Regions from separate parts of the Homo sapiens genome. Here all the other regions are linked to region 2. The links come from fine-mapping of genetic effects on gene expression. A gene starts in region 2. Each other region holds a variant in brackets. All regions are shown on one strand. Distances are between the middles of the regions. Region 1 holds the start of PI4K2B (phosphatidylinositol 4-kinase type 2 beta). Region 2 holds the start of SEPSECS-DT (SEPSECS divergent transcript). Region 3 overlaps LOC105374535 (a long non-coding RNA gene).

Evidence for each region.
Region 1: its variant is fine-mapped to the expression of SEPSECS-DT in whole blood (INTERVAL, PIP above 0.99).
Region 3: its variant is fine-mapped to the expression of SEPSECS-DT in whole blood (INTERVAL, PIP 0.97).

The regions. Positions count from the first base shown.
Region 1 is chr4:25,226,076-25,234,259 of GRCh38, reverse strand. PI4K2B (phosphatidylinositol 4-kinase type 2 beta) reads right to left here and starts at 227. Exons shown (of 10, transcript NM_018323.4): 1 at 1-227. The coding sequence starts at 96. LOC105374535 (a long non-coding RNA gene) reads left to right here and starts at 395. Exons shown (of 4, transcript XR_925490.3): 1 at 395-471. RefSeq lists silencers at 1-27, 128-437 and an enhancer at 1-401. The variant G/A (reference allele first, on the strand shown) is at 4,883.
Region 2 is chr4:25,156,039-25,164,219 of GRCh38, reverse strand. SEPSECS-DT (SEPSECS divergent transcript) reads right to left here and starts at 3,548. Exons shown (of 2, transcript NR_037934.1): 1 at 3,467-3,548. It overlaps SEPSECS (Sep (O-phosphoserine) tRNA:Sec (selenocysteine) tRNA synthase), which reads left to right and starts at 3,771. Exons shown (of 11, transcript NM_016955.4): 1 at 3,771-3,964; 2 at 5,113-5,267; 3 at 7,246-7,364; 4 at 8,025-8,181. The coding sequence starts at 3,851. RefSeq lists an enhancer at 3,508-3,807 and a silencer at 3,918-4,087.
Region 3 is chr4:25,211,789-25,219,972 of GRCh38, reverse strand. All of the region lies in intron 1 of LOC105374535 (a long non-coding RNA gene), which reads left to right. Among named protein-coding and RNA genes, the nearest start is that of PI4K2B, 18 kb to the left of the region's middle. The variant C/AC (reference allele first, on the strand shown) is at 3,181.

The DNA of each region.
Region 1 (8,184 bases), 70 kb before region 2:
CCGCGGTAGCAGCGGCTCCCGCTCCCCATCCTCCTCCTCCTCCGGGCTCCCGCCGTCCGCGGACGCCAACCGGTCGGGCTCGGAGGGATCCTCCATGGACTCCCTCTGCTCCCTCCGCGCTGAGACCAGATCAGAGCAGCCAGGTGCCAGAGACTGGGCTCTGCATGGCGCGGAACGGGAGCGACCGGGTAGAACGGACGCCACCTCACCAGCGCACGGGCACGCTTGGCGCCCGCCCAGCGGTTGTCCCGCCTCGCCGCCGGCCGCGCCCCACCTCGCGCCTCCGCCAGGCACCACCCCCGCGCCTGCGCAGAAGGGTCGTGGCGGCGGCGGCGGCGGCAGCGGGGCACGTGGGAGTGAACAGGGGGCGGGGCTTTTGAGGGGTCAGGTGGGGTGGGGCCGCCACCTGCTTCCGTGAGCGCGGGGAGAAGCTGGGCACAGCTCGCTTTACTCCCAGTGGAGGGCGGGAAGGTGAGTAATTTTCAAAGAGGTGCCCTCCTGCAACCAAAAGCGGCTTCTCCCTGACAGAATTCTCTCTCAGAGTTTACCATAATCTGTAACTATAGATTTAATTGTATGACATTTCTTTCCTCCAGTAGACGTCCAGGAGGGCAGGGACCTTGTCTTTGTTCAGATATTCTTGATAGTGGCAGTTTGTATGTTTTCTTTTTCTGACTAATCTAGCTAGAAGTTTATCAATTTTTAAATCTTTTCAAAATGTCATGTTTTGGTTCCATTGATTTTCTGTTTTCTGGTCCATTGCCTTATTTTGCTCTTTATTGCTCACTTGAGTTTTGATTTCCTCTTCTTTTTCTAGTTGCTTAGAGTAGAAGATGATTGATTCTGGATCTTTCTGCTTTTCCAATGCTAGTATTTTAAGGCTATAAATTGCCCTCTAAGCACTGCTTTAGCTGAATTCTCCTTTTTTTTTTTCTTGGTGGTTGTTATTTTTGAGACAGGGTCTCACTTTGTTATCCAGGCTGGAGTGCAGTGACACAATCATAGCTCACTGCAGTCTCAACCTCCTAAGCTCAAGGGATCTTCTCAGCTTTAAACTGTAGAAGACACAGTAGCTGGAACTGCAGGTGTGCACGACCACATCCTGTTAATTTTTAAATTTAAATTTTTTGTAGAGATGGGATCTCACTGTTGCCCAGATTGGTCTTGAGCTCCTGGTCTCAAGCAGTCGTCCTGCTTCAGCATCCCAAAATTCTGGGATTACAAGCATAAGCCACCTTGCCTGGCCTGCTACTGTGCTTTTGTTTTCCTTCAGCTGAAAATAGTTTTTAATTTCCTTTATGATTTCCTCTTTGACCCTGTAAAGGAAAATAAAAATCTCAGAACCACCCCCCACCCCCAACTTGTTATGTCAAAGGGAGAGTTAAGCCTGGAGACTGAAGTCACTCAACACTACAATGCTTTTCCCAAATGGATAGCTGTTACTTCCCATAGTTGTATTAAAACTTTATATGTTAGCCAGACCCTCCTCAAAATGCAAAAAAAAGCCTTATGCATCTCAGTCTCAGGATGACTGTCCTCAACAAATTAATCATAGTAAATTCTTTACTGGCCCTTAAACCTTTCAAGATGTATATCCTTCCATAAAACAAGGACGTGTCAATTGTATAACTTTAAGTCTGCAACCTAAATCAAACTGGTACAACTAAAGTCTGTTAAATTTCACATGGATAAATTCAGTTACAAGCTTATCTTCCCAGATGCAGAACAAGGATAAGATCAATCATTCCTTCACCTGAGATATCTGTATAATTAACTTCCTTTACTCCATTTTCTTTGAATATTCACCTTATCTTATGCATAGCATAGAGTTACTGGGCACTACCTAAAGTCTAGCAAAAATGTAACCATTTGCTTCACCACCTACAACCCTCTTCCCTGATGCCTTCTCCGCTTTAAAGAAAGAATAGCTGTAATTACAGGTGCCTGCCACCATGCACGGCTAATTTTTGTATTTTTTAGTAGAGATAGGGTTTCACCACATTGGCCAGGCTGGTCTCGAACTCCTGACCTCAGATGATCCACCCGCCTCGGCCTCCCAAAGTGCTGGGATTACAGGTGTGAGGTACTGCACCTGGCCTGTAAATGCCTTTTAATTGGAGTTTGGGGTCCATTTACATTTAATGTAATAATGATGTGGTTGGATTTAGATCTATTATTTTGCAATTTGGGTTTTATTTGCTTTAACCTTTTCGGTTCCTCTGTTCCTCCTTTCCTGCCTTCGTTTGGATTAATTCAATAATTCTGATTATTTCATTTTCATTCCACCATTGACTTTCTGTTATACTTATTTTTTTTCTTTTTTTGAGATGGAGTTTCACTCTTGCTGCCCAGGTAGGAGTGCAGTGGTGCAATCTTGGCTCACTGCAACCTCTGTCTCCTGGGTTCAAGCTATTCTCCTGCCTCAGCCTTCTGAGTAACTGGGACTACAGGCACATGCCACCATGCCCAGCTAATTTTTGTATTTTTAGTAGAGACGAGGTTTCACCATGTTGGCCAAGATGTTCTTGATCTCCTGACCTTGTGATCCACCCACCTGAGCCTCCCAAAGTGCTAGGATTACAGGCATGAGCCACCACGCCTGGCCTCTGTTATACTTCTTTACATTAATTTTTAGTGCTTACACTAGGGTTTTCAATACTCATCCTTAAATTATCTCAGTGTACTAAGAGCCAATATTGTACTATTTGACATAAGAGGTAAGAACTTAGTGTCATTCCATTTATGCCCCATCGTTTATGTTATTGCTGTCATGTATACTAGACCTAAATATTTAAATACAGTGAATAATTTTTGCCTTAATTGCTTTTTTAGAGAAATTACCCACATAGTTACAACTTCCGGTGTTCTTCCTTCCTTTTTGTAGATCAGAGTTTCTATCTAGTATCATTTCCCTTTCCTCTGAAGAATTAAAAACAAATTTTATAATGCAGATTTGCTGATTAATATGGCTTGGCTGTGTCTCCACCAAATCTCATCTTCAATTCCCACGTGTTGTGGGAGGTGGGAGGTGGGAGGTGATTGAGTCATGGGGGCAGATCTTTCCAATACTGTTTTCATGATGGTAAGTGAGTCTCATGAGATCTGATGGTTTGAAAAACAGGAGTTTCCCTGCCCAAGCTCTCCTTGCCCGCTCCCATCCACGTTAGATGTGACTTTCTCCTCTTTGCCTTCCCCCATAATTGCAAGGCCTCCCCAGCCATGTGAAATTGTAAGTCCAGTAAACCTCTTTCTTTTGTAAATTGCCCAGTCTCAGGTATGTCCTCATCTGCAGCATGAAAACAGACTAATACACTGGTGATAAATTTAAGTTTTAATTTATTAGAAATTGTCTTTATTTTACCATCATTTTCAAATGCTATGTCCTCTGGATACAGACTTCTGGGTTGATATTGCTATCCTTACCCATCTAAGTTCAACTGTAAATATGTCATTCTATTGTCCTCTTGCCTTCATTGTTTTTGAATCATAACCCTTCACTTACACACCCGACTTGTGCTATGTCATTTTCTCTAGCTGCCTTTAAGATTTTCTCTGGTTCTTTGGTTCTTTGATTTTCAATAGTTTGACCATGATGTTTTTGGTATGATTTTCTTTACAAATATCTTGCTTAGGTTTTGCTTTACTTCTTGAATCTGTAGATTTATGTTTTCCACAAAATTTGGAGAAATGTCATTCTTTTTTTTTTTAGAAGCAGTTTATTACCTTAAAGCATTTAGCAAACCTAATGTCTGACCTAATTTCAACCAAATGTCTTTATTTTACCAATAATCTTCAAAACTCTTGATTTCCCAAAGCCTACTAAAGTCATGCTGTCACAGGCCATTAGACAGCATGAGCAGGGCAGGAAAGGGCTCTTCTCCCACCCACCAGGAATGTTGGGTGATGGCTCAGCAGTTATCACATTGCCTCTCTAAAAGTCATACATTGGCACCTAGGGTCAGGGAGACGCCATTTCCTGATGGTCCACACCTATTGCACTAAAGTGTTAATTGAATGCAGATGCCAGGGAGATGCAACTTCCCAGGCAAATGCATTAAGAGACAAAACGGCAGAGTATGACCTTTCCGTGGCACTCCATGGGAAAAGGGAAGAAAGCCTTGGGTGGGCATGTGTACAACTTCCTAAACACACTGCATGTGCTCACCTCCCAAGGATAGGGAGGGCACTGTGCATGCGGGCAGCTCACCCTAAGGAAAGAATCATGGGAAAAGAGCCAGCCTATAAAGTCCTAGGATCAAGGTTCAACACTGCACTTGACCTTCACGTGCCCACGTGCCTGCTTGAGTCTCTTCCAAGCATACTTTCATTTCTTTCCTGTTCTAAAGCCTTTTTAAATAAGCTTCCACTCCTGCTCTGAAACTTACCTTGGTCTCTTTTTCTGCCTTATGCCCCTCAGTGGAATTGTTTCTCCTGAGGAGGCAAGGATCGAGGTTGGTGCTGACTAGTGCAGATTCGCTGCTGGTAACTTGGATACCTTCCACCAGTAACAACATCAACTGAAAGGCATTACAGTTTTTATTTTTCTGACAAAATATTTGATTTAAGCACTTGTTATTTTTAAAACATTAATTAGAGCTCTTTCATATATAAACATTACACACATAACACACATATAACTACACAGACAGACAGAAGATCCAGTAGTTGTAGGATTTTTCATTTGCCAGTTTTTGTTTCTTAATTGGATTACTGGCTTCAAGGTGGAGCCCTTGGAGGAACAGGGCTAGGAAAACGTGCAGTTTCTAGGGCCTAATAAGCATACAGAGCTGGAAGGCAAAACAGATCCCCAAAACTTCAGGGTCCCTTTTTCATACTAGATCCTGAATCCCCAAAAAAGAAATGCTACGGAACAAGACAGAGC[G/A]TGATTTTACCATGCATTTCATTGCAAAGCAACCCAAAGACAGTTAGCCTGTTCTGTGATCTCAGTCATTATTTCTTCAAATATTTCTTTTCTGCTCTATTCTCTTTTCCTTCTGAGATTTCTATTACATGGATGTTAGACTCTTTGATATTGTTCCAAAGGGCAGTAGAACTCTACCTATGTTTTCATTTTTCTCAATAATTGTTCTCTCTGTTCTTCAGGTTTGGGATAATTTGTCTTTATCTGTTTTAAATTCATCAATCTTTTGACTATTTCCAAAAAGTTGTTAAGCCCACTCAGTTTGTTTTTAATTTCAGACCTGTACTTTTCAGTTCTACAATTTCTATTTAGTTCCTTTTTAGAGCTTCTACTTCTCTGCTGAAATTTTCCATCTGTAACTCATTATGACATATATTTTTAAAGTCCTTGAAAAAAATGTATATATATAACTTTTAAATGTCTCTGCTAATTCTTACATCTGGGTCCTCTTATAGTCAGTTTCTATTTACTGCTTTTTCTCTTGGTTATACGTCAAACTTTCCTGTTTCTTTGCAATATCTGTTAATTTTTTATTGTATACTGAATATTGTGGATAATATATTATAGAGCCTCTAAATTCTGTTATAGTCCTCTCACGAATGCTGATTGTTCTAGAAGGTAAATAACTTGGCTGGAGTCAAACTCCACCTGAAATTTCTGGTCATTTCTTTCAGCAATCCAACTGCTGCTTTTTGCTGAGCTGCTTGAAGCCTCGCCATGTATACACAGTTCAGGAGTCAACCAAGGATTTGGGCAGAGTATATATGCATGTTTTGGAGTTCTCTTCCTCTCTGACTTCTTTGTTTTCAAGACATCTGTCCTCCATTTTTAGCTGTTCTGAGAGTCCCAGAGTCCATTCCCTAACTTCTGAAGCCCTTAAGAAACTGTAGCTTTCTAATTGAGTTCCAGCTGCCTTGCACAGTGAATATTCAGAAGTGCTCTTAGGTGAAAAGGTGTATGAACATAAATCTTACTCATTATATTTCCATGTTTTGAAGAATAGCCATGACTTCCATTCCTATCTGCTTGCTTTTGGTTGCTTTTCAATGTCTTCAAATAATTGTTTTTTGTATTTTGTCCAAAGTTTATCATTTTTGTTATAAGATTAGTTCAATATAGTTTTCTATGGTGTGTTTGATTGGAAATGCATTTTTAGTGAAATGAATAATGCTATATTTTCTCAGTACGTCATCTGTTAGTAGAGAAATATTACTTATAGGTAAATGAGACAAGATTCATCATCAGCTCTATTTGTAGTTTTAGTTTTTACAAATGGAAACACTGAGAAAACCTATTCAAATTAATAGATGGATATGGGAAACATTTTGTAATAGCAATGTCACTCAAGTCTTAGACCTTTTTCCAAGATATATGCTAAAAAAAAAATCAATCACATAATACTCTAGCATCAAACACCTTATGATTTATTATCAGACTCCTTATTTAGGTCCTCCAACATTTGAATTATTCAGTTTCTCAATTTCTGGGGAGTACACCAAAAAGCATTTTAAAAGACTTACCAAATTGTTAATAATTATACTGCAACTCTTTCATTTCAAGCCACCTTTTAACTTGGAGTTGAGAACATAGAAATATTAACATTTCTATAGATCTTTTGCCAATAAAATATTTTTTGTTAAAATGGTTTTATCTTGAAATTTAAGTTTATTTTTGTCAAAGCCCTGGAACTGCTGATTTGGCTCATTCAATGTATGTAAAACATCTAACTTAAAAGTTAATCAGGGCTGGGCATGGTGACTCATGACTATAATCCCAGCTCTTTGGGAGGCCAAGGCCAGAGGATTGCTGGAAGCCGGAGTTTTAAAGACCAGCCTGAGCAACATAGTGAGACCCCAGCTCTACAAAAAAACCCAATATTTAAAAGTTAGCTGGGTATGGTGTCGTACACCTGTAGTCCTAGCTTATGGAGGGACTGAGGTGGGAGGCTTGAGCCCAGGAGTTAGAGGTTACAGTTAACTGTGATCATGCCAGTGCACTCCAGCCTGGGCAAGAGTGAGACCCTGTCTCTAGAAAAAAACAAAAAGTTAATTGGAAAAGCCAGGTTTCATTATCAAATCCATCAGCCAAAGAAGACTTTTTTCAATTCACATAAACATGCTAAAATGTATTATTGTATCGACATCTCGGTTTTAAATTCTAAGGCTCTACCACCTTCAGTATACCTTACTGATACTTTCTTCACTTGGTTCTTATGGGATACTCCGAAAGTACTGGGATTACAGGCAAAGGAATATTTCTTCAACCAGAAAAGAAAGAAAACACTGCTGCTACTTTAGGGAACCTTTGTTAAGGAGGCTTTGCCAACACCTATATTTCAAATACAGCCTTTGTTGGGAGCCTTGGCTTTGTTTACACTTTGGGGCAAAAAGCCATTGGAAGATTCAGAACAGGTGTTCTGATGCCAATTCATGCACTGCTATTCAATTCTGGCACTAACCACCCAGAGTTAGTACAGAACCCACAAGTTAAGCATTTAGTCCTCCACAAGTTTATCCTCATTTCAGATGCCAGCCATGCTTCTGGGGTCCCCTGGCCACCTCCCCTTATGAACAACTAGATACAAATTCAGGCGTCAAACCTGACCCCCTCAGATTTGACAATTTGGTAGAATGATTCATAGAATGCAGCAAAGATCTCAAGGTTCCTGCCTTCATGAAGATTTCGATGAGATGGGATTTACAGACCAATGAACAGGTGATTCCAATACAGTAAGATAAATGCTATGTAGAGGAAGTATGGGCTGCTAAGAGGGCATAGAAGAGGGACCAAGATTTGGGAGGATCGGGAAAGAGAGTTAATACAGACGAAACAAGGGTAGGGGAAGGACTTGACTGAAGTCAAACTCCACCTGAAATTTTGGATCATTTCTTTCAGAAATTCAGCTGTTGCTTTTTGCTGGTCAAATAAATGGTCAGGGTAGGCTTCAAGGGGCAGATGACATGTAAGTGGAGACTTAAAGGATGAGAAAGAGCAGTTTATACAAAAAAAAAAAAAAAAAAGAAGGAAGAGTGCTCCTGGCAGACGGGACCAAAGGCTCTGAAGAGTGCTCCCTGAAGCTCTCTGGTGACCACAGATGGAGGAGTGCCTGTGACCAGAGGGGGGAAGCATAAGCTTCAAGAGGTGGTCCAGGGCCTCACTGTGTTTTATTTCTCAACCTGAAATAATCCAGAGGATTAAAATCCAGTTTTGTTTTTGTTTTTGTTTTTTGAGATGAAGTCTCACTCTTGCCCAGGCTGGAGTGC
Region 2 (8,181 bases):
CAGTTTTATTGGTGACCCACAACAAAATTTGTCCAAACGGATGTAGTCTGGTGAGAACTGCAAACTCATCGGTCTGTGAAACTGGCTTAAACAACAGGGTTGTAGGGCCCATGGCCATGTTCTACCCTATGATTCTCCTTCTTATGGAAAATAACACTTTTAGATAGCACAATACAAAACAGAAGTACAAAGGACAGCACAAAGGATGAAAAGGAATTGCCTGATTCCACTAAGGATGCAAATAGGAACCAGTAACAAAATCTGAGTACCAAACTTCAAATGAATAGCTTAGGAACTCAAGGCAAACAGGGAGGAGTTCCAAGCCAGCACTGACTTACCATGTTGGCATGGACTTGACAAGCCATAAGCAACAAGGCACGAGGAGCCCCTGTGGGCACCACAACTGGCCAAAGGCTGAGGTCCACCGCCATGGACAGCACAGACCATGTCTCAGTGAAGTCTCCAGGAAAACTGGAAATTCAGAGCGTGCTAGAGAAGGGAGTCAGTCACCATCATTTACATTTGTCAAGAGTCTCAAAGGCAGGCAGGGGAGTGGGAAAGCTTTATAGTGAAAGATTCAGGTACAGGGAAGAATTCAGGTGTGCCGATTGGAGGTGTTGGCAAGGAGAAGCTAGAGGTTGGCTAACTAGAAACAGGGCATCTTATGTAATTTAAGGAGGATATTTAGCTTTCTCTGGTTGGTCTTAAGTTAGAAGCGAGTAATAAAAGAGGGAAGCTGGCAGTCATTGCCCAAGTCTTAACCATTCTTGGCTGATTGCTGCAGAGGTGGTGGTTTGGAAGTCTAGTTGCTAGAGAGGTTGTGGGTGAGAGTTCTGTTATCACATATGATCTGGCCATTGTCCATTTGTATAGTCAGTCTATCTAGGGGAAGATGTCATTGAGCAATTACCTCTCATTTAATCATCATAACTGCCTCTTCCATATCCCCATTTTACAGATAAAGCAAAGCTCAGGAAGTTTGAGTAATGTATTTAAGGTTATACAACTAGTGACCCTAGCAGAATTTAAACCTGTGTGTTCTGGACCTATTTTAAATGATGCTTCATCTTGTAAAGACCATGAGGTTATTCTGATGTTGCCCTATTAAAAATAGTAATTACATACTATTATTAAAAATAGTAATTACATACTATTTTAAAATAGTAGTTACAAACTACTATTTTAAAATAATAATTACATACTATTTTTAATAGATAGCATCATTTAAAATAGGTCCAGAACACACAGGTTTAAATTCTGCTAGTGTCACTCATTGTATAACCTTAAATACATTACTCAAACTTCTTGAGCTTTGCTTTCCTGATCTGTAAAATGGGCATATGGATAAATACTTGTTGGGTGAGTGAATGGATGAAAGTAATTTTAGAATACTTCTCTTGAAATTGCTTCCAAAGCTGGTATCTTTTGAATACCTTTAATGAATGCATATCTTGACAATGACTAACTTTTTGGAAACAGACAAACATTTTTCTGAAGTAAGGTGGTGAATAAGGTAAGAGAAGAAGCTGGCTCAAAAACCTGGCGTGTCCATTCAGTAATGACATTAATTTTGGGATTTTTGCACATTTTGCATGTGATTGACAAAGCAGCTTTGAAGGCTTTTCCAAAGAAGAAGTTGCAAAAATAGTTGCATTTTGAGAATAGGAACACAACTTTCCAAAAGTTTGAAAAATACTCATTTTAGAAAGTATGCTAAATTCTTGTTGTTTTGTGGTTTACCTTTCTGTTTAAAGTAGTTAAATGCTCTATGTCATTCAACAAATATTTATCAAACAGCTATTATGTATTTAGTGCTGTGCTTTGAACACAGATATTGGTATAGCCCTTGTGAACCAGGAGTTCACAGTCTAGTTGAGACAGAAAATTAACAATTGAAATGCAATTCAACAAATACCATAAATAGACTGATTTATATTAATAGCTGGATGCCATGGGAACATGCAGTAGAAACAGTGATGAGCTGGTACATGTTGAACAACTGACTTCTAGGGGAGTGGGTTGGAGTGTAAGGGCCTGATTAGCGGTGTTTACTGATTTCCATGGTGTAAATGCTCCCACCATGGCCAACGTGACATCATCAAAAGAGGAGTTGGAAGATGTGCAGTAGTATAACATTACATTGAATTTCCACCATATAGATAAAATGCATGTAAATAACCTGAAGAGCATAGATAATAGTAAAATGTAAAATAATTAGGAAGTGACAAATTTTGAGTATTTTTACTTTTGCTTGTAATATAATTTTTGAGTGGCTGTATTTGAAAACTAGCTCACAAAATTACTGAACATTTAACAATCAGCTCTTGCAAGTGGGTGTGACTCAGTGCAAATGGACAAACCACCAGGTGAAAGCAATGTCAGGAATTACTGTAGGCTCACATAAGATGAAGATTGTAAGGAAACTGGAGGCAGGGATCTCCAGCAGTGAACCTCTAAGTTGTTGAACTGTTACAGCACTGCCAGGTTCCTATGCCGGCTGTGCAGAAACAGACCAGTATTCCGACAGCAGGCTTGCAGCAGAGAAAGTTTTAATAATCACAAGTTACAAGCCAGGAAACAGGAAGAGTTCTCAAGCTTCAATCCATTTCATCAAGGGGTTCTAGGCAAAGTTTTTTAAGGGGATTTGTGGAGGGTGAGGGGCTGGAAAATTTGGGGTTATCGATTCGTTGGGGTAAGGGAGATGAAATCATTAGGATGTGACAATTGCATTCCTCCATGAATCAGCTTTTTATTGGGCCTTCCAGACAAGTTGGCGTCCTTAGTTTTGTTGGTATGCGGGACCTAAAGAAGCAATGCAAACAGAAAGCTTATCTTCTCATAATGTCTTAGATTTTATCTTCAGAGCAGAAAAAGAATGAAGAGTCTTGTGACAAGGGCCACATTCTCCTGGGGTAGTAAGTAGCAACCAGCTACAAGAAAGTCGGCCACACTGCAAGCTGGCTTAATAACAGCAGCTGTAAGCCTAGTTGGATTTTTTTCCCCTCCTTAATCAATTTTACAAAATGTTCTTGGGGATAGTTTCAGAATGGTCAAACTAATTCATTAATTCAATATCAACTTTTTTTTTAGGCCCTACTTTATTCTGGGCACTGTTTTAGGTGCCCGGGGGAAGGGGGCACCGCAGCAAAAACCGAGGTCCTGCCGTTAGGTTAGAGAGTTTACATTCATGGGTATGGGTGTGTGTGTGTGTGTGTATAAACAAACGTCTGGCATGTCACGTGGTGAGTAGTAAGTGCTATGGCTAAACAGTAGTGTCAAGGGGAAAATGAGTGGGGCACTGCTATTTCCTATGGGGTTGTGAGGCAGTAATAAGTGTGGAAATGTATCAAAGTAAAGATCGAAGGTTCTGGCATCTGACAGTTTGAATAAGGCGGAAGCACAGACCCTGCACAGATCTCAACCATCCAACAGGACTGAAACACAGAACTTGGAAAAACCCACGTACCTGCTTCTTACTCTGCTCGCCCGGTCTGCACAAGTGCAAAATCCTTTCCTGAAGTTTGTGTCAGGAACACCAGGGTTTAACTAGACGAATCAGCCGCAGCGGGGCGGGGCTAATTTCAGTCCTTCCTTTGCCAAAAGTCAGCGAAAAGCGCGGACTCCCTCGCGCATGCTCAAATACGCCAACTTCCTCCTGGAGCGCCATCTGAGAAGGTCTGCGCATGTGCACGAACGAGAAGTGTTTTTTTTGTTTTGTTTTGTTTTGTTTTGTTTTTTGTCCCAAGGCGCTGCCGTACCGTCCAGGCGGCGAGTTGCATTCTGGTTCCGTCGTGTGTCTGGCGTGTGGAGCTAGTGCTCCCGCTTATTCGCCACTGTCGCCACCGCTGTCATGAACCGCGAGAGCTTCGCGGCGGGAGAGCGGCTGGTGTCGCCGGCTTACGTGCGGCAGGGCTGTGAGGCCCGCCGCTCGCATGAGCACCTCATACGGCTGCTTCTGGAGAAGGTACCGAGCTGTCGGTCCCCTCCCCAGCCGCCGCGACCCCGGGGCTCTGGCTCCGCCGGGCGTCCCCGCTGGTGCTGCCTCACCGGCAGCTCTTCGCTGCTTGAGACTAGTCCCAAGTCTGTCTCAGCTTGGCTTGCCCTAGCTGACCGACTGCGGTCTGTGCCTTCTCAGCCTTGCCAAAGCCAGTGAAAGCCAAATGGTGTTGTTAGGAGGGGGTGTTGGGGTCGGGGTTTTGAGTCCCGCTGTTTCTAACTTCGGGATGCGGAAGTGAGGGAAAGTCCCAGTGTACTTTTTTATTCGCGGAAAGGGCAAAGTTCGCACCTCCATCTTTCACCAACCCTCAACGACTCAGAACACATAATGGTGTTTGTAGACTGTATGCTAACTCGAACCACGAGCTTTCCGCGGAACTTCACAGGTCTCCCTCCTGCCAGCGTTCATGTATTTTAATTTCATTAAAAGTTTTGTTGTGTTTTGTTTTTTTGAAACAGAGTCTCGCTCTTTCGCCCAGGCTGGAATGCAGTGTGACGATCTCGGCTCACTGCAGCCTCCGCCTCCCGGGTTCACGCCATTCGCCTGCCTCAGCCTCCCGAGTAGCTGGGACTACAGGCGCCCGCCACCACACCCGGTTAATGTTTGTATTTTTAGTAGAGATGGGGTTTCACCATGTTGGCCAGGCTGATCTCAAACTCCTGACTTCAAGTGATCGGCCATTCTTGGCCTTCCAAAGTGCTCGGATTACAGGCGTGAGTGAGCTACAGCGCGTGGCCAAAATTTCACTGAAGTTTGACAACTACCGCCCTTCTCCACGTCCCACCGCCCCAGTCGTAACGCCCTGGTTTGAAGCATCTTCACTGGGGATGTGTTGTATTGGTTTTCAGTTAGTTTCACTTACGGAAATTTAAATATCTCAGTAAACCTCATTGTATGCATTTATCATCACTTCTCGAAATCTGTAAATAATTGTAATCAAATGTACAAACGTTTTGCCTCTTTGCGGTCTCTATACAGTGGTGAATTTATGCTTGAATTTTAGAAAACAAGCAGCGTGGCAAAATACACGTTAAAAAGAAAAACTGTATTCCTGTAGTATTCTAGAGAACGGTAGTTTTATTAAATATAATCATAAGTTTTTTTTTTTTTTTAAGGGCAAGTGTCCAGAGAATGGCTGGGATGAAAGTACACTTGAACTCTTTTTACATGAACTTGCAATCATGGACAGCAACAATTTCTTAGGCAATTGTGGTGTGGGAGAAAGGGAAGGGAGAGTGGCATCCGCACTGGTTGCTCGTCGTCATTACAGGTATCTTTTTTTAAGTAGTACAGGAGATACATCGTTTATTTATTTTTGGTTCAAAATAATGGCAGCAGTATTTATCTTATTAGATTATCAAATGTCAGTTTGTAAACCACTTCTTCCCTGCTCTAATGGATATGTAAGCCAAATGCAACAGGGAGATGGAAACAATTTTATCTCAGCAGGTGCTTTTCAAAGACAATAGAGTAAAAACTAAGTGGGGGTTACCCTGTCAGGTTCTGGGTGACTAACACAGGCTATACGTTTTCTTAGGAACGGTTACCCTAATAAACATATCTGGTTGTAAGAGTTCAAAATCCATTAAGGTTGTTTATAGCTTTCCATATTTCTTTTCTAACATTTGTAGTGTTTTTTTTTTTTGAATGATTTATAGTTATCAACTTTAAATTTTGTTTTAAACTGTGTTTAAACTGAATCTCATTTTATAAATACCTCTGTTGCAATAGATACAGGGAAAGGTGTATTAGATTATTAAGTGACCTTTTTCTTTTGCATTATTGCAGAAAGCTTTTCATCAATTCTGATAACGATTTAATTGGTAGTTAATTGGTAGTTAATATGATCACTCATTGCTCTGTCCACTAACCTTTCTGTGAAGTGTAAACTCTTTTAAATGAAACTCCTGTCTTCCATGCTTTTACATTATAATGAAAATTTCCTGGGCATCGTAGAATTTGTATTTCAGTAAAAACCACTGCAGTCAAAACTGATGATAATGCCTAACTTGGATGAAAATTTCAGTTAACAGTTTGCTGATAACATGGTTGATAATATATGTAAGAAATGTTTTGTACATGAGATTTCAGTGGTGAGGAAGTACAGCACTAGTATTCTTCGATAATCCTCCTATACCGAATTTCTGATATATTTGACTGTCAATTAGAAATTACTCAAATTACGAAAGGGTTTTTTATTTTAAAGAGTATTGAGAGGTATCTTTAAACAATGTATAATATTGTCTAATTTAAAATGAGATTTGCACACTGATTTTCTAGGAGCATATAGTTCTTTTAAAATTAAGGCAATATTTGAACCATCATTGGAACTTAGCCCAGTGTGGAATTAGGGGAAAAGTAAAGAAAAAAGATAATTTGGCCGGGCACGGTGGCTCACGCCGGTAATCTCAGCACTTTGGGAGGCCAAGGCGGGCGGATCACGAGGTCAGGAGATCCACACCATCCTGGCTAACATGGTGAAACCCCGTCTCTACTAAAAATACAAAAAAATTAGCCGGGCGTGGTGGCGGGCGCCTGTAGTCCCAGCTACACGGGAGGCTGAGGCAGGAGAATGGCGGGAACCTGGGAGGTGGAGCTTGCAATGAGCCGAGATCGCGCCACTGCACTCCAGCCTGGGCGACAGAGCGAGACTCCGTCTCAAAACGAAAAAAAAAAAAAAAAAGATAATTTAATATTTCATGTATTCTAGTTTTCTATTGCTACAGAACAAACCACCCTAAAATTAAGTGGCTTAAAACATTTATTGTTACCTCTCATAGCTTTTTGGATTAACTGGGCTCAGCAGGGTGAGTATTGCTTTGGGTCTGTCATGTAGTTGCAGTCAGATACTGGCTGAGAGTTTAGTCATCTGAAGGTTTGCCTAGCATGAAAATTTCACACAGTTACTTCTGCTAGATTCTTCCTGGCCAAGCAAGTTACTAAATTCAGCCCAGATTCAAGTGGAGAGGAAGTAGACTCCATCTCTTGGTGTGGGAGTAGCATGTGGGCATAGGGAGAAAAAGAATTGATGGTGGCCGTCTTTGGAAACTAGCTATCACAGCATAATTGATGAAATTATTTCAATTTAAGTAGGAGAGTTCCACATCATTAATAGTTTGTGACATATATCTGTAACAGCCAAATATTGCTCCTGGTGTTTTTTTGGTTATTACATTTGCATATTTGTACATTGTATTACTCGGAATGCTGAATGTATTTGTCCAGTTTTTGGCCCATTTTTTGCTTAGGTTCATTCATGGCATTGGACGATCCGGTGATATTTCTGCTGTGCAACCAAAAGCTGCAGGCTCTAGCCTTTTGAACAAAATTACCAATTCTTTGGTCCTGGACATTATAAAGCTGGCTGGTATGTACCGTCTTAATCATAATGCTTTTGGCTGTCTGGACACACACACACACCACTGACTCATTTCATTTATTATTGCCCCTTTCCAAAAAGAGTATGAGTGGCTTTTGAAAAGACTTCTTTTTTTTTTTTTTTTTTTTTTTTTTTTGAGACGGAGTCTAGCTCTGTTGCCCAGGCTGGAATGCAGTGGCGCGATCTCGGCTCACTGCAAGCTCCGTCTCCCGGGTTCACGCCATTCTCCTGCCTCAGCCTCCCGAGCAGCTGGGACTACAGGTGCCCACCGCCACGCCTGGCTAATTTTTTTTTGTATTTTTAGTAGAGACGGGGGTCTCACCGTGTTAGCCAGGATGGTCTCGATCTCCTGACCTCGTGATCCGCCCGCCTTGGCCTCCCAAAATGCTGGGATTACAGGCATGAGCCACCGCGCCCGGCCGAAAAGACTTTTTTTTTTTAAATAAAAAGTCTTTAGAATAAGATAGAAAATCAGAGCCATAAGCCCTGAAGTTGAATTTGGCATTGAGCTTTCCAAGAGCGAGTACAGAAACAGAAGCCCTAGGGCTACGACTCTTACTATTTTATATATGAAATATATTATTTCCTCAAGAAGGATGCTGGGTGCTTAGCGGGATAACAGATTTCTGTTTTGCTTCTTATTTGTAGGTGTCCATACAGTAGCCAACTGCTTTGTAGTTCCTATGGCAACTGGTATGAGTCTAACTCTGTGTTTCTTAACATTACGACACAAAAGACCAAAGGCAAAGTATATTATATGGCCACGAATAGACCAGAAGTCCTGCTTTAAATCCATGATCACTGC
Region 3 (8,184 bases), 56 kb before region 2:
CCTGGGCTCAATAAATCCTCCTGCTGTGGCCTCCCAAAGTGCTGAGTTTACAGGCATGAGCCACTGTGCCTGGCCTTCTGATGCTTTTTATTGAAGAGTTGGTAGGTCTTTCAGAAAGTTTCTGTAATGAACATTAAGTGATTTGACTAGAAAAGAGTCTACTAGAATAGTAAAGTTATACCAGTGAAGACAATGAAATAGTAAAGTTAAGTTCATGCAATTAGACATGGGAAACTAGGTAGGTTCTTTTTTCAGCAAATATACATTTTTAAAAAAATCAAACATCTTAATCAGAAAGTACAGTTGACCTTTGAAGAACATGGGTTTGAAATGCGTGAGTTCACTTACATGTGGATTTTTTTCTACCTCTGCCACACGGAGACAGCAAGATCAACCCCTCCTGTTTCTCCTCCTTCTCAGCCAACTCAGTGTGAAGACAAGGAGGATGAAGGTTTTTATGATGATCCACTTACACTTAAGAGATTAGTAAATATATTTTATCTTCCTTATGATTCTTCTAAATAACACTTTCTTTTCTCTAGCTTACTGCATTGTAAGAATACAGTAATATATATAGTATTGAATATACTGAATACAGTAATACATATAAAATACATATACATATAGTATATGATACATAACATACCAAATATTTTCTAATTGACTGTTATCGGTAAGGCTTCTGGTCAACAGTAGGCTGTTAGTTATTTGAGTTTTTGGAGAGTCAAAAATTATACTCAGATTTGCGGCTGTGAGGAAGGCTGGCACCCTTAAACCCCACTTTGTTCAAGGGTCAACTATACATACTTTGCTAGTGAAAGCTGAAGTTAATTTATACCTGAAGTTTCTTTTCTTTTCTTTTCTTTTTTTTGGAGATGGAGTTTCAGTCTTGTTGTCCAGGCTGGAGTGCAATAGCACAATTTTGGCTCACTGCAACTTCCACCTCCCAGGTTCAAGCGATTCTCCTGCCTCAGCCTCCCGAGTAGCTGGGATTACAGGCACCTGCCACTACGCCTAGTTAATTTATACCTGAAGTTTCTAAGAAAAAGGAATACCAGTCAACTCAATGTACTCCCTGGTCATGGGGAAATAAGATTGTTTTCTTCCAGATATTTGATCTCCAATCTACCATCATTATAATCTGGGAATGACCTTCAAGAACAAGGTGAATGTGTTCTTCTGATATGAAAAATGATTTGCAGGAAGAAGCGAAATTACGAACAACAGCACCAAGCATTTACAGAGACCCTACAACACAACAAACACACACTTTACTTATATTGCCTCCATCTTTACCCTCATCTTTCTCAGATGAGGAAGCTGAGATTCAGAGGAGCTAAATAACTCATTCATCTTCCCATAGCTAGTAAACAGAAGAATTGGGATTTGAACCCAGGTGTCTTTAACTCCAGAGCCCATGATTACTTTTCTTTTACATAGTTATATCCCATCAACTCAGAGCACTTTGATTTTCATACATACCCACAGGTGCTGCATTGCTTGGACGATATTCAAAGTGATATGAGTTTTCTCCACCTTCCATTTGTCCTCTGCACAAAAAATTCACCTGTCCTCTGTTTGATTGGCTTATTAATCTATCATACTGTGAGAAAGGTTACCAAAATGCTAAAGCAGAGGATTTTCTTTCCACTGGACTAAACATGTATCTACCACCTATTGTGTATCAGGGACTTTGCCAGGCAAAATCCTGGTCTGTGATGAGAACAGGTTCATGGGATGCGAGGCTATGGTGGTGATTAAAAATGTATGTACTTAATTATAATGCATTGGTATTATACAGCTTGTGCTGTTTTATATTATTTTTAAGAAAGTTTTTAAATTTTATAACTATATAATTATATAATTCAATTTTTGTTTGTTTTTCATTTTAACAGAAAACTAAAATATCCAAGGCTAATTTAATTTCATATGCTGGACAAATTCAGGAACTAGAGTGCAGGAACTGAGGTTTAACAAGTTATATAGGCTGGACACAGTGGCTCACGCCTGTAATTCCAGCACTTTGAGAGGCTGAGGTGGGAGATCACTTGAGCTGAGGAGTTTGAGACCAGCCTGGGCAACAGGGTGAAACCCTGTATCTACAAAGAAAAAAAAAAATTAGCTGGATGCACTGGTGCATACCTGTAGTCCCAGCTACTCGAGGGGCTGAGATGGGAGGATGGCTTGAGTCCAGGGAGGTTGAGGCTGCAGTGAGCTGTGATTGTACCACCGCACTCCAGCCTAGGCAACAGAGTGAGATCCTGTCTCAGAAACAATGTGTACCACTCTGCGGCTGGGCTTGTATGAGAGGAGAGAGTGGGTGATGGCAGTTGCTGAAAAAAAAGAAAAATAAGCCAAATCCCTAAACCTGTGGCAGAGAGAAAGAATGGAGTGAACACATCTGGGCCTGCAGAGAGGCCTGTGGCTCAACCCTTGAAACCTATATTAGTTTCCTAGGGCTGCCATAAAAATTACCACAAACTGAGTGGCTTAAAGCATCAGAAATTTATGCCCTCACAGTTGGAAATCAAGGTGTTGGCAGGACCATGCTCCCTCTGAAGGCTCTGGGGGAAAATCCTTCCTCGCTTGATGTGGTTTGCTCTGTGTCCCCACCCAAATCTCATCTTGAATTGTAATCCCCACATGTAGAGGGAGGGATCTGGTGGGAGGTGAAAGGATCATGGGGGCATTTTCTTCCATGCTGTTCTCATGACAGTGAGTGAGATCTGATGGTTTAAAGTGTTTTACAGTTCCCCCACTCTCTCTCTCCTTCTGCCTGTGAAAAACGTGCTTGCTTCCCCTTTACCTTCCACCATGATTGTAAGTTTCCTGAGGCCTCCCCAGCCATGCAGAATTGTGAATCAATTAAACCTCTTTTCTTGGCCAGGCATGGTGACTCACACCTATAATCCCAGCACTTTGGGAGGCCGAGGTGGGCAGATCACTTGAGGTCAGGAGTTCAAGATCAGTCAGGCCAACATGGTGAAACTGTCTCTACTAAAAATACAAAAAAAAAAATTAGCTGGGCATGGTGATGGGTGCCTGTAACTCCAGCTACTTGGGAGGCTGAGGCGAGAGAATCACTTGAACCTGGAAGATGGAGGTTGCAGTGAGCAAAGATTGCGCCACTGCACTCCAGCCTGGGCAACAGAGCAAGACTCCATCTCCAAAAAAAAAAAT[C/AC]CTCCTTTCTTTATAAATTACACAGTCTCAGGGTGTATCTTTACAGGAGTGTGAGAACAAACTAATACAGAAAATTGGCACCAGGATAGTGGGGTACTGCTATAAAGATAATCTAAAAATGTGGAAGCAACTTTGGAACTGGGTAACCAGCAGAGATTAGAACAGTTTGGAGGACTCAGAAGAAGACAGGAAGATGAGGGATGAGGGAATATTTGGAACTTTCTAGAGATTTGTTGAATGGTTTTGACCAAAATGCTGACAGTGATATGGACAGTGAAGTCCAGGCTGAGGTGGTCTCAGATGGAGATAAAAAACTTGTTGGGAACTGAAGTAAAGGTCACTCTTGCTATGCTTTAGCAAAGAGACTGGTGGCATTTTGCCCTTGCACTAAAGATCTGTGGAAATTTGAACTTGAGAGAGATTATTTAGGGTATCTGGTGGAAGAAATTTCTAAAAAGCAAAAGAGTTCAAGAAGTAACCTGGCTTTTTCTAAAAGCATGCAGAAATGTCATATGTATTCACAAAGAGATGGTTTGAAATTGGAACTTATGTTTGAAAGGGAAGCAGAACATTAAGGTTTGGAAAATTTGCAGCCTGACCTTGTGGTAGGAAAGAAAAACCTATTTTTGGCTGGGTCTGGATGGATCACCTGAGGTCAGGAGTTCGAGACCAGCCTGACCAACACGGAGAAACCCCATCTCTATTAAAAATACAAAACTAGCTGGGCGTGATGGCACATGCCTGTAATCCCAGCTACTTGGGAGGCTGAGGCAGGAGAATCACTTGAATCTGGGAGGTGGAGGTTGCGTGAGCCAAGATCACACCATTGCACTCCAGCCTGGGCAACAAGAGTGAAACTCTCTATCTCCAAAAAAAAAAAAAAAAGAAAAAGAAAAACCCATTTTCTGGGGAAGAATTCAAGCTGGCTGAATAAATTTGCATAAGTAATGAGGAACCAAATGTTAATCTCCAAGACAATGGGGAAAATATCTCCAGGGCATTTCAGACCTCTTAGCAGCAGCCCCTCCCATCACAAACCCAGAGGCCTAGGAAAGAAAAAATAGTTTCACAGGCCAGGCCCAGGGCCCTGCTGCTCTGTGCAGCCTCAGGACTTGGTGCCCTGTGTTCCAGCCACTTCAGCTCCAGCCGTGGCTAAAAGGGGCCAAAGTACAGCTTGAGCCATGGCTTCAGAGGGTCCAAGCCCCAAGCTTTGGCAGTTTCCCCATGGTGTTGGGCCTGCAGGTGCACAGAAGACCAGATTTGAGGTTTGAGAACCTCTGCCTAGATTACAGAGGATGTATGGAAATGCCTGAATGTCTAGGCAAAAGTCTGCTGCAGGAATGGAGCTCTCACGGAGAGCCTCTCCTAGGGCAATGCAGAGGGGAAATGTGAGGTTGGAGCCCCCACAGAGTCCCCATTAGGGCACTGTCAAGTGGAGCTGTGAGAAGAGGGCCACCATCCTTCAGACCCCAGAATGGTAGATCCACTGACATCTTGTATCATGCACCTGGAAAAGCTTCAGGCACTCAATGCCAGCCTGGGGGCTGTACCCTGCAGAGCCACAGGGGCAGAGCTGCCCAAGACTTTGGGAGCCCAGCTCTTGTATCAGCATGCTCTGGGTGTGAGACATGGAGTCAAAAAAGATTATTTTGGAGCTTTAAGATTTAATGAGTGCCCAGCCAGGTTTTGGACTTGTATGGAGCCTGTGGCCCCTTTGTTTTGGCCAATTTCTCCCATTTGGAATGGGAACATTTACCCAATGCCTGTACCTGCATCGTATCTTGGAAGTAGCCAACTTGCTTTTGATTTTACTGGCTGCTAGGGGGAAGGGACTTGCTTTGTGTCAAATTAGACTTTGGACTTGGACTTTTGGGTTAATGCTGGAATGAGTTAAGGCTTTGGGGGACTGTTAGGAAGGCATGATTATGTTTTGAAATGTGAGAAGGACATGAGATTTGGGAGAAGCCAGGGACAGAGTGATATGCTTTGGCTCTGTGTCCCCACCCAAATCTCATCTTGAATTGTTATCCCCACATGTTGAGGGAGAGACCCGGTAAGAGGTGATTGGATTATGGGGACTGTTTCCCCAATGCTGTTCTCATGATACTGAATGAGTTCTCATGAGATATGATGGTTTGAAAGTGTTTGGCAGATCCCTTCTACCTCCTCCTGCCCTGTGAAGAAGGTGCCTGATTCCCCTTCACCTTCCATCATGATTCTAAGTTTCCTGAGGCCTCCCAGCCATGCAGAACTGAGTCAATTAAACCTCCTTTCTTTATAAGTTACCCACTCTCAGGTAGTGTCTTTACAGCAGCATGAGAATGGTCTAATACATTGCCTCTTCCCAGCTTCTGGTGGCTCCCAGTAATCCTTGGTGTTCCCTGGCTTGTAGATAATCCGTCCAATCTCTGCTCTGTTGTTACATGGTCTTCTCTCTGTGTATCTCTGCGTGTCTTCTCCTCTTCTTATAAGGAAATCAGTCATTGGATTTAGCTCCCACCTTAGTACGGTATGACCTCATCTTGAGTAATTACATCTGCACAGACCCTATTTCCAAATAAAGTCAAGTTCTTGGGTTTCCAGGGGACATGAATTTGAGGGGGAAGCTATTCAACCCATTATAAAAACTTAGTGCAGTAACATACACCTGTTATTATCAGATAGACAGTCTCATCAAAAGCCTCAGTGTGTCATTAGTATAACTTTCCTAGAATCTGTGACTATCACAGAAAGAGAACCACTGAGCAAACCTAAGAAGTGGTCACAACAAAGAGTGAGCACAAGAAAAATCACTTCCTGAATGTGACCAGATTTATGCTGTTTCGTGGATGAAAAGACCATGATTCCAAATTCTGACAACAAAAGCTCTTTGTTGAATGGAAATCTTCCATAAAATCTGCCTATGAAGTACTGGATACTGAATGTAGTTCCATGAACTCTGCAGAACATCTTGGATGTGCTCAGAGCTTCATCAGCAGGGTCCGTCCCTTCCCTACTGGGTGTGTGACAGGCCTACTCTGAGACAGGATAGGGAGAGAACAAGGTGTACATGTTTCTAAACATCCCAGACCTAAGAAGATGCACCAGCTACACTAACAACATGACAGTTTTCTTCTGCTAAGCTTTCTTATCAAGCTGGCTTCAGGATAAAAGAAAACTTAATTTGTCCAAGGAAGCTCTGGCTGTGGAAACTGTCACTCTTGGCTTTGAGGAAACACTCCATAGTGGCTGCAGAGTAGTTTCTGCTCCTTGAATTAGACTTTTGGACTCTGACAGAGGTTAAAAACCAACCTTACGTGATGATACTATTTTTAACTTCTAATCTCAGAGTTGGTATTATTGGGCAATGGATTAGATTAGATGCAAAAGAACATCAGAAGTACAGTCATAATCATTCCTGTTTGATAAGAAATTTTCAAATGGCATATTAATCTATTAATTGTCAACATGTACAGAACATTCCTAATGACTTCATCTATATGGATCCATACATTCCTCCACTTTTAACCCTATTGATTCTACTTCTGAAATATCTCTTGAATCATCTGCTTTTCTTTCTCCCTACCACTACCACCATAGTCCAAGCCATCATCATATCTGTCCTGACCACCACAACTGTCTCTCAACTAAATCTCACTTCCACTCTAGTCCTGCAAATAGTTAGGATACCATGGGCAGCAAATGCAGAAATCTTGATTCCAGTTGGTTTAAAGGAAATTTATTATCTCACATAGGAGGAAGGCTAGCAATAGGGCAAGTTTGGGAGCTGGCTGACTCAGCAGTTCATCATTGTCACCAGAGTCCCAGGTTCTTTCTATCTTTTAGCTCATCTATGCTTAGCTTGTCATCTTTAGTCTCAGGCTGCTACCCTCATGGGTGAAAGATGGCTGCAGCTGTTTTCAGCAGCTTCACACCCAGTCATGGCCACATCCAGATGCAGGAAGAGACTGTCTCCTAGTGCGTTCCTATGAATAAGGATACTTTCCCCAGAAGTCTCCCACAATAGATATTCCTCTCAAAGCTCACTGGCCAAAACAGGTTCGCATGCCCACTACTAAACCAATCAATTACTAACAAAGAGAATGAGACCATCTGTACTGACTTGGACCAATCAGGAATTATCCCCAGTGTTGGGAATATGATCCTATTTCTATGAGTTATCTGGAGAAAAGATGGACACCTTAACAAAACTATAATTTTGCCTGTGAGAGCTAAGGGAGGAAAAGATATTGGACAAGCAACTAAAGGTGTCATCAAGACCCTCTGCCACAAATCTCTTTTCTGTTGAGCAAGCTTGTCCAACCTGCAGCCTGCACACATCCCAGAATGCCTTTGAATGCAACCCAACACAAATTCATAAACTTTCTTAAAACATTATTAGGTGTTTTTTGTGGCTTTTATTTTTTTTAGCTCATCAGCTATCATTAGTGTATTTTATATGTGGCCCAAGACAATTCTTCCAATGTGGCCCAGGGAAGCCAAAATATTGGACACCCTTGCTACAGAGCAACCAGAATACTTTTCTCAACTTGCATTTCCAATTATGTTCTTCCTCACCTAAAAACTTCAATGGCTTCCTATGGTACATAGAATGTAATCCTGAAATCCTATTTGGGTTTACAAGGCCTTGTGGGCTCTGCACACTGCTCTCCTCATTAATTATAAGCCACTCCTTCTGGCTTCCTCTCCATCTTAGGGCTTGTGTGTATGCCTGAACTTGGACTGTACAGAAACAGAACCAATAGGATATATTAGGTTGGTGCAAAAGTAATTGCAAAAGCCTCAGTTACTTTTACACCAACCTATAAAAGATTTATTTCAAGGAACTGGCTTATGTGATTGTGGGGGCGGGCAAGTTCAAAATTTGTAGGGCAGGCTGGAAACTCAGGCAGGAGTTGATGCTGCAGTCTTGAGGCAGAATGCCCTCCCTGAGAAACCTGTTTTTGCTCTTTTGGCCTTTCAATAGACTGGATGAGGCCCACCTACATTGTGGAAGGTAATACC